3 separate regions of the Homo sapiens genome follow, and all the other regions are reported to be linked to region 2. The links are microRNA targets in miRTarBase. Many come from high-throughput screens and were not tested one by one. Region 2 holds a microRNA gene; each other region holds the end of a gene's coding sequence.
What was found. Region 2 holds the annotated microRNA hsa-miR-4673 (UCCAGGCAGGAGCCGGACUGGA, at 1,092-1,113, shown strand). A microRNA usually pairs through its seed, bases 2 to 8, with sites in the 3' UTR of a target mRNA and lowers its output. Matches are read on the target gene's strand: a 7mer-m8 pairs with bases 2 to 8, a 7mer-A1 pairs with bases 2 to 7 and ends in A, and an 8mer does both.

Region 1: miRTarBase lists HSPB8 as a target of hsa-miR-4673. Seed matches in the 3' UTR shown: 7mer-m8 at 2,517-2,523.
Region 3: the mRNA of CDK18 is a reported target of hsa-miR-4673. Seed matches in the 3' UTR shown: 7mer-A1 at 585-591.

What each region holds. Positions count from the first base shown.
Region 1 is chr12:119,193,635-119,196,848 of GRCh38, reverse strand. It overlaps HSPB8 (heat shock protein family B (small) member 8), which reads right to left. Exons shown (of 3, transcript NM_014365.3): 3 at 2,103-3,150. The coding sequence ends at 2,991. It also overlaps the pseudogene PDAP1P1. Among named protein-coding and RNA genes, the nearest start is that of HSPB8-AS1, 11 kb to the right of the region's middle.
Region 2 is chr9:136,517,505-136,520,716 of GRCh38, reverse strand. MIR4673 (microRNA 4673) reads left to right here and starts at 1,091; the gene lies at 1,091-1,149. NOTCH1 (notch receptor 1) reads left to right here. Exons shown (of 34, transcript NM_017617.5): 5 at 1,152-1,274; 6 at 1,893-2,126; 7 at 2,425-2,580; 8 at 2,780-2,965. The region is part of intron 1 of LOC124902310 (a long non-coding RNA gene); the gene reads right to left.
Region 3 is chr1:205,530,907-205,534,156 of GRCh38, forward strand. It overlaps CDK18 (cyclin dependent kinase 18), which reads left to right. Exons shown (of 16, transcript NM_212502.3): 16 at 438-1,884. The coding sequence ends at 472. Among named protein-coding and RNA genes, the nearest start is that of CDK18, 28 kb to the left of the region's middle.

The sequences.
Region 1 (3,214 bases), not on the chromosome of region 2:
CAATTCTGTTGATAGCATTAGTGCCCCGAATCCAGCTCTCCTAGCAAGCAGCTCTTATCCCAGACTTCTCAGCTATGTGCACCAATAAAAACCCCTTTTGGTTTAAATTAGTTTGAGTTGGGTCTCCTGGCACTTACCACAGCAGCCCTTCTCCCTCCCACCCTACAGTCAGGGATCTGTGTTCCTGGCAGCATCCAAACCCGTGGCAGCCACAGCACTGTTAACTGCCCTCAGAGCTGCTAGGCCTCTTTCCTCCTTCCTAGCAGAACCTTGTTTTGTTCAGGTAGCAATGTTGCAGGCCTCAGAAGATGTTGATCCAAGCCTGTCATGACCATCCTTTTCCCTTTTGGCAGAAATTGGTCTCAGGGTAGGCATGTGACCCACTTTTGGCCAATGAGATAGAAAAAGAAGTCTGCTGGGAGCTTCTGGACGATATCCTGCTCACTGATAAAAGAAGCTAGGTGATAATACCTTTTTATGACTTCCTTCTATTCCCCATACATTGTCATATGAGGATGAGATGCCTGGAGCTGCTGCAGCCATCTTGTAACCATGAGGATAGACTGTGACTATGTACACTTGTCAGAGATGGCAGAGAAAAAAATGGAAATATCCTGGGCTCTTGGTGGCATAACAGCTGAAAAAAAAACTGTGTATCTACTTACCTCTAAACTTTTTGTGAAGTTAGAAAACAGCTATTTATATCATTTAAGCCACTGTTCATCAGGCAACATTACTTTATTTTTTATATTTTTTATTTTTATTTTTTTACGATAATGTCAAGTTTAATCTGCCAAATATACAAGTTGAACTTGTGGAACATGTTTTGCCTGGGTGCCACACAGTAAACAGAGGTTTCTTGAAATGATCAATGGGTAGGGTTAAAAATGGGCACTGGCCTTAGCCAGGTGGGTAGGAACTGGGCAGGGAGGGGCAGAGAGGCGAGGCCTCGATCAGACAGGACTGACCAGGGACAAGCCATAACCCTCGAGGACCCAGGGGCACAGGCTCCCAGATGACAGCCCCTCTCTGAATGAGCACCTAGGCAACACAGTCCGGGGCTGGGTGTAGCAAACCTGTCAGCAGCTGCCTCCTGGGACAACCACCCCCTTACATGCTATCTACCAGAAAAATGAAAGCTCTTCTTACCCCATCTCCCAGGCACCCCCCAGCAAGGGCTCTGAATTCTAAAAACAGCAAAAACATTCAAATGGTTACATGTGAAATGCTGTCCCTCATCTTTCTGTCTCAAAGATAGCAACTGCCCCTCCCCCAGCTCCCCCCACATCCCCCAAACAATTTCTGTGCCAAAATGAAGAGGAGGCCCCAGGCCATGGGGGGCTCCTGGCCACGAGGGGCTGTTGCGGCGGCGCCAGGGCACAGGGTGGGCGAGACACAGCAGAGGTCCTGGCAGCGCGGCCCAGGTCCCCGGCATCTCCTCCCATGGGTCGCGGTTACTTATACAGGGAGAGCGACTGCATTCGTTTTCCTGACAATGTGGCATCATCTTTTGCTTTCCTTTCCTCTTCCTTCTTCCGGGCAGCCTCCTCCCGCTGTTTCCGGATGATGGCCAGCGGGCCAGGTCAGCCTTGGCTTGCTCTGTCTTCCCGGCCAAGTGCATTTTCATGTAACGCTCTTTTGCCTTCTGCTTCTCAATCTCTTCTCGTTCTCTCCTCGAAAGCTCCTTTGGCCCATCCAGATACAGTTGTGTGACCTTTTTGGTTGTCTGTGCCACCTGGTTGGGGTTCTCGATGTTGAAGAGCCCTTCAACGCCTTTGCGGTTTTGCTGGTAGTCATCTTCTTCATCCTCACTCTCATCTGAGTCTAGAGATTTCTTCTCCTTTTTGGGGTCACCTGCAGCCCCATCTCCACCTTCTTTTTGCTCCTCTTCTTCCCTGGCCTTCTGCTTCTCAGCCTGCAGCTGTACGTCGATCTCCTCAGGGCTCCTATACTGCCTCGCCCAGCCTTTGTGGCCTCCCTTTCTCCCTCCTTTAGGCATCGCGGCTCCGCGCAACATTACTTTAAGCCACAGCATTGCTAACTGATGTTGTATATCTAGGTGGTATTACATTTAGTTCCTCATTAAAAGAACCACACAAGGCTAAGAACGTCAGCTCCTTTATTATTATTATTATTATTATTAATTATTTACTGTTATTTACCCCTAAACAACAGCATAACTCAAATAATAATGACACACACGTCCCGCCCATATACACAATACCACTAGCCTATCTGTCAGGCTATCTGGCCTTTGCTTGGTTCCTGATGGAGCTGTCTGGAGACAGCTCCCTCTGTAAAAATCCCGACTTAAACACAGGGGACAGAAGAAAGGGGGGACCTAGGTCAGATCATAAACTGACAGGCTCCCAGCGTCCTTAGGGAGTGCTAATGTGGAAACTTTGAGAACGTGCTGGACACATCTGGGCAGAGGGCAGAAGGCACTGTTTGTTTTTATGTGGTTGATGGATAAATTCCATATGGGGATATAAGACCTGTATATCACCCATTTTAGGCCAGGCATGTGGAAGCACAGTGGGGTTAGCTACTGGGTTTCATTAACCAAACCATGCGGCATGGTTTGGGAGCCATGGGAATCGGGAGCCCAGAGTAGGAACCTGGGTGATGGGGGAGGTCCCCAGAGAAAAGTAACCCTTGCATTCACTGCAAGTAAGATACAACGTGAAATGTTAAGTCCCCTTTTATGTGTTTTGCAACTATAGAATGTGCAACATTTTCATCAAGATAGAAAAGGTAAAGAAAGCAAAACTAGTATTTTGGCCTAACACAACCAAGCATGATTTGCCAATTGCGCTATCCTGTGGAGAAATCTACCACTACACTATCCAGGGAATCTGTGGTCAGTCCTCACCCCCGCACCCTCTAACATTTTACTTGCACTAAATCTGAGTTCAGCTAAAGTAATGTATCCTGGAATCAGAGAAGCCCTAGGGTTGGGGACAAAACAAGGATGGGCCAGTACTGGCATCTCAGGTACAGGTGACTTCCTGGCTGTCCTGGGGAAGCTCGTTGTTGAAACTGCTCTCTCCAAATGTTGAGTAAGGAGGGACCTGGGGAGCTTCGATGATCAGCAGACCCTCTGGGGAAAGTGAGGCAAATACTGTCACAGGATCCACCTCTGCAGGAAGCCTAGGAGAAACACACGATTTTATTCATTTATTGTTGTTAATATTGCTTAAACATTCTTTTATTC
Region 2 (3,212 bases):
ACTCAGGCTGGAGTACAGTGACGTGCCCTCAGCTCACTGCAGCCTTGACCTCCCAGGCTAAAGCGATCCTTCTGCCTCAGCCCCTCAAGTAGCTTGGGACCACAGGCCGGCGCCACCACGCTTTGCTACTTCTTGTATTTTTTTTTGTAGAGACGGGGTTTCGCCATGTTGTCCAGGCTGGTCTTGAACTCCTGGGCGCAAGCGATCCACCCACTTCAGCCTCCCAAAGTGCCGGGATTCCAGGCGTGAGCCACCGCGCCAGGGCTGGGGTCTGGTTTTGGGTGCTCCCCAAGCTGATTTGCATTTTGGATTTTGGTTGTCTCTGGCTGCCTGCTTTTGCTCCGGTCCAGCAGACAGACAGAACGGACGGGGTGGTGGCGGTGGGGCAATGTCTCAGAGGGAGGGGCCGAGCAGGTGGGAGCTCCAAGGGCAACGGGGGTTCAAAGGCATCTCGGGAGGGCGGCAATTAGTAACCGGCTGCAGGTTTGGCTGTTGCCGAACGCGCCTTTCTGGGTTGATCATTGAACCAGCGGGAGTTGAGTGGATTAATAGCTAACTGGCTGCCTTGGAGGCCTGGGTGGGGCCATACCTCGGGGGAGGGGGCCCTGGCAGCCTGTGGAGGAGGAGGGGGAGGAGGAGGTGGGCACCAGAGCTCTGCCCCAGGGAGGATGGGCCATCTGAATCTCTGCAGCTTCCCTGGGGCTGCGAGGGGCCCACCCTGCCCCAGCCAGCAGCCTGCTGGCCCCATGTCCCCCTGCTGCTCAGAGCCCAGGCCCCAGTGTCAGCCCCTGAAGATGGGGTGTGCGGCCCCCCTGTGGAGACATTGTAGGGAGCTCTGAGCATGCAGGCGGCACCCAGGTGCAGGAGCTGCCGGAACCTCTTAAAAGAGACCCAAGGGTTTTTGTGACAGAATCTTCTGGAACCCTGTGTTCCTGAGTCCCTGTTTAGCCAGTCCTGTCCAAAATGATTCTTTCAAGCAGGGCGTGTCCCTCTGGGCACTGGAGTGAGGCAGGGGACGGGCACAGACCCCGGGGGCCCCAGGGCAGGGCCGTGGAGGCCAGGCTCTTGTGTCCAGAGCAGTGTGTCGGGGGTCCAGGCAGGAGCCGGACTGGACCTCAGGGAAGAGGCTGACCCGGCCCCTCTTGCGGCAGGCTTCACCGGCCAGAACTGTGAGGAAAATATCGACGATTGTCCAGGAAACAACTGCAAGAACGGGGGTGCCTGTGTGGACGGCGTGAACACCTACAACTGCCGCTGCCCGCCAGAGTGGACAGGCGCGTATACGGGTCGCCGCAGGGCGGGGTAGCCGGGGCGGGGCTGCTACCCACTTACTAAACTGCACTCACAGGCATAGCGGGGAGCAGCCGAGACCCTGTCCCAGGCCAGGCAGACTAGGGTTGGCCGAGAAGGACAACATGATGGGGGCCCCACTTCCCGTGGCCAGGGTCTGGTGCCCCTCACCTCGGGGGTCAGCACAGACAGGGCCCTGGTTGGTCTGTGTGGGCCGTTTGCAACCTGGCTCCAGGCAGCCCCTGTGCCCAGTGGGGTGTCCTGGCATTGAGGGCCTTCAGCACCCCACTCAGGCCACGCTTCCTGGGCCAGTCACAGGGATGCCTGGATGAACAGACAGGCCCTGTGTTCGGGAATTACCCTCTGGTGGGGTGACGGGCAAAGGTGCACCCCGACGCAGCAGTGTCCACAGAGCACAAAGAGGAGGCAAGACTCCATGGTGCTGGGCCTGCAGAGGAAGGAGTGATTTAGGCTGGCGGTGGGTGGAGGAGTCAGCCCAGGAAGGCTTCCTGGAGGGGGCGGCATTGCCACCCTGCGTCTTAGGGGACAGGGAGCTCAGGGAGTGGCAGCTGCCCGGGGCCGACAGCTCCTGTTCCCTGCAGGTCAGTACTGTACCGAGGATGTGGACGAGTGCCAGCTGATGCCAAATGCCTGCCAGAACGGCGGGACCTGCCACAACACCCACGGTGGCTACAACTGCGTGTGTGTCAACGGCTGGACTGGTGAGGACTGCAGCGAGAACATTGATGACTGTGCCAGCGCCGCCTGCTTCCACGGCGCCACCTGCCATGACCGTGTGGCCTCCTTCTACTGCGAGTGTCCCCATGGCCGCACAGGTGAGTGCCTTGAGGCCCAGGTGGGCGCAGGGGGCTCACATGGGCCAGGCCTGAGCTGTGTGACCTCACCCAGGGACTGTGGCCCTCCTGCACCCAGGATAACCTGAAAGGGCCTTTCTGGTCAGGGAGGCCGGTGGTCGCTGTGAGTCCCCCGGAACGTCCCAAGTGTCACGGGATGCCCGACGGGGTCACGGCGGGCAGCTCCTCCTGGGGTGTCAGTGGGGTTGGACCCCAGCCGTGGGTGGTGTGCCATGCCTGGCCCAGGGGCCGTGCCCACTGACCGCCGCTGCCTGCCCAGGTCTGCTGTGCCACCTCAACGACGCATGCATCAGCAACCCCTGTAACGAGGGCTCCAACTGCGACACCAACCCTGTCAATGGCAAGGCCATCTGCACCTGCCCCTCGGGGTACACGGGCCCGGCCTGCAGCCAGGACGTGGATGAGTGCTCGCTGGGTAGGTGCCAGCACAGGGGGTGCGGCCAGGTGGGGGTGGCAGCCTGGCCCCAGAACCGATGAGAAGTCGATTCTGGCTTCAGGGGGTGCCCAGTTAGATGGGGGATGGGACCCTGCCAGTCCGATGGGGGTGGTGTGCAGTGAGGTGTTGCAGGGGCCAGGGTGCCTGGAGCAGCCTCTCACCCGTGTGCCCTCGCCAGGTGCCAACCCCTGCGAGCATGCGGGCAAGTGCATCAACACGCTGGGCTCCTTCGAGTGCCAGTGTCTGCAGGGCTACACGGGCCCCCGATGCGAGATCGACGTCAACGAGTGCGTCTCGAACCCGTGCCAGAACGACGCCACCTGCCTGGACCAGATTGGGGAGTTCCAGTGCATCTGCATGCCCGGTGCGTCGGCCGGGGCCAGGGCGGGAAACCGAGTCGAGGCTGGGCAGCCTTGGAGGGGCAGCCCCGGGAACATCTGTGGGTTGCTTCCGCTTTCCCCAGCCTCCATGCCTTCTGGGCCCACAGCCTGCACAGGGCATGGGGAAACTGAGGCCAGGCCACAGGGCCAGCAGAGCACGGGGGCAGTGCTAGGCAGATGAGGGTGCCGGGCCAGGGGCCACGGGCTGCAGGGGAGCGGGTGCGCAGGGGG
Region 3 (3,250 bases), not on the chromosome of region 2:
ATTGCATTTGACAGTAGCCCTGGCAAAGAGGCATGCTGTCTCTGGTGCATTCTCTCTGCAAACCCTGAGCTCTCTAATCAGATTCCATCCTGGGAGAACGGTACTTTGTTCCTAGAACAGTCAATGGCCTTGGACATTGACAAATGCTTTCCATGCATCGTCTTCTTTAATCCTTAAAATACCCCTTGAAGCTAGTACTATTAATATTCCCCATTTCATAGTCAATGAAACTGAGGCTCTGGGAGGTTAAGTCACAAGTTCATGCAGCTAGTAAGTAGCAGAGATGGGATTTGACACCAGGTCAGACCGGCTCCTGTTTGCATGCCCTTGCTTGCTCTGTCAGAGCAGCTCTGGGGGACAGCGACTGTCCCTGCTGACCTGGGGTACCCGTCAGCCCAGCCTCCTCCCTGCAGCCCCACCTCTTCTCCATTCTCCAGGACGAGGGAAGAACAGGCGGCAGAGCATCTTCTGAGCCACGCCCACCTTGCTGTGGCCAAGGGACAAGAGATCACATGGAGCACAAATTCGGGTAGGATGGAGCCTGTGTGGCCCTCGGAGGACTGAAGAACGAGGGCTGACAGCCAGCCTGGAAGACCGCTTGGCAGCCCTTCTGGCCACGGCTGTTTCTTCTTTGTGCTTCCCGTGTGCCTCCCCAGTAGCCCTCACCTGCATACCAACCCCTCCTTTACCCACGTTGGGGCTGGCATAAGCTGCTTCCCTGAGAGGACATGAGGGGGGGGCGGTCCTCGTACCCTCTCCCACCCTGGTGTTTGGGCACCTGCGTGGGATGCACACGGATGACAGAATCAAGGCGCCAGGATGGGCACTCTGCCCTGGATACAGGCTCTACCCTCCTCCCCCAGGACCTGCCTAGTGCCAGTTTGGTAGTCCCCCTTTCTGGCCCCTTGGAGCCCACACACGTTTCATCTTTTTCCCCTCTGAGAGCAAGAAGAGACATGGCATGTTCTCTGGGACCCTGGAATCCTAGGTACCCACATGTGTGCCAAAGCCTACCCCACCTGGCAGGTGTCCCACAGCAACAGAAGGAATAGTAGTCCCCACTCTTTCCATCAGCCCTACCCTACCCTCATTCCCCGACACCCTCTGGCTTGAACCATGGCTGAGCAGTGCCGGCATACGCTTTGCTGGCATGCTTGGATGCCCAGCTGTGTCCAGAGGTGGCCTGGGACCGCCAGTTGCACGCCTGCCACCTCAGCCAGCCCCCGCCCAGCTCATCAGTCTGAATGGAGTTGCCTTAAATTGGCAGGTGGTACCGTACTCACTGCCCTTGGAGCTGTGACCGGCTCCTGCCTGTCCACCCCTTCCCGAGGTGGCTCCTGCTTACCTTATCATCCCAGGGCTCTGATTAGCCAGGCCTGGTCAGGGTCCTGGGGACGGCACCCAGATATGCAGAGTCACCCTGACACTGGTGCCAGGCTGACCTCAGCTCCCGAAGGCTCGCACAGCCTCCCCATCCTTCCTTCCCAGCCCTTGTGGCTCTGTCCACCTGATCCCAATACCAGCTTCCCCCAGCCCCTGCCACCCCAGAGGGCGGCCACGACAGGGAGAGGTGTAGATGCCACCATCTGAGGGAGAGGAACGTGGAACAGGAGCAGGCTCTGATGCTGAGAGGCTTGCCTCCGGGGGCTGGAAGCCTGGGTGGCCGGGGCCCCTGAAGAAGGCTCCCCTCTGTATCCCCCAGGTCTCCTCAACACTGGGCTGATCCTGAATGGCACAGGCCAAGGGGAGGCCAGCCTCGCCTTTCTACCCAGGCCCCCTGCCCTGCCCACCTCAGGCCCCCACCCTCCACTCCTCCCCACGGTACTGTGAACGTCGTGTGACTCAGTGCAGAGACAGATAATATATTTAATTCATGTACAGAAAGGAGCGAGCAGTCTCGTACAGAAAAGCTGACTTTGATAGATTGATGCCAAAGATGGAGAACTGAAGTCCCCCCTCCAGGCCTAATGAGTGTGGGTGGGGTGTGCTTGTGTGTATGTGTGTGTGTGTGTGTGTGTGTGTGTGTGTGTGTATATATATATATATATATATATATATATAGTGAGGAGAGAGTTTGATTTGTGTGTATCTCTGACCTCCCCTACACCCCAGGCTGTGGGACGAGTGCCTAGCATTCACCTTGCTGTATCCTGGGTGCTGCTGCGTTCAGAGCCAGAAGTTGGCTCTTGCTGAGGAGCATCAGTGGTTGTTGTGGGTGGGCAGAGGAGTCCCAGGCCTGGGAGTCTGACCTGTGGCCTGGCATTGGCCCAAGTTGGTGCCTGTGGGGTGGGGCTGGCCAGGAGAGCAAAGAGGGACCCCTGGGCGGGGGTCTGGGGTCTGGCCGTGCAGCTAATCCCTGTGTTCCTGATGCCAAATGGCCCCCTGGCTTCTGGGGAGGGAGGTAGGCAAGATCAAGATGAGGTTGACATGGGAGATGGCCAAGGCCAGGGCAGCAGGACGAGGGTGTGGGCCTCACTGTAATTCAGGCTCTGCAAGAATTGCTGCAGACCTCGAATACACCTCCTGCTGCTGCCTAGACCGCCTCCCCACCTTTGATCTGGACACAACCCACCCCCGCAACACATCATACACAGCTCCCAAAGTGCTCAGAGTCCTGCTGTTGTCCAGTTCGGTGTCCAGGTTTGTTCTTCCCGAGACCACTCTGAGAATGCCAGGCCCGAAACCCTGCCTCCTGACCTGTCCTCATGCCTGGCCTTAAGCACTTTGCAGTTTGCCGGCATGGTTTGCAGTTACTTAAGAGGGTGGCTGCTTTCCAGAGGAGGAAGCTGATGCTGAGGTTGATGATGTCTCCCAAGGCTCTGGAAGTAAGGGGCGGGCCAGGGCTCCATTCTCAGCTCAGCACCAGTTCTACCGAAGGAGACCTCCTCACTTTGCTTGTAGGCAGCCAGACACCAAAGTAGGGTCGTAACTCAGACAATTAGTGCTTGAGGGGAGGAGAAGGGCTGGGAAATGCATTGGTGGGAATTGGAAACCAGACATTTATTAAGTTCCCTGCTGGGTGCCAGGCAGCCCTGTGCCCAGGCATTGTCTCACTGAATCCTCATAGAAACCCCCCTTTCTCCCCACTTTGCAGATGAGGACAGGAGCCTCCCAGGGGTAGCCTGGGGTCACATACCAAATTAGAATCCCAGGTGTCTGCCCCCCAGCCCTGTGGTCTTTAAGGAGTGGGAGGCGTGGGGAGGGTGAGGTGGAGATAGTGCAGAGGCCCTGGAGGGAGGAAAACACACAA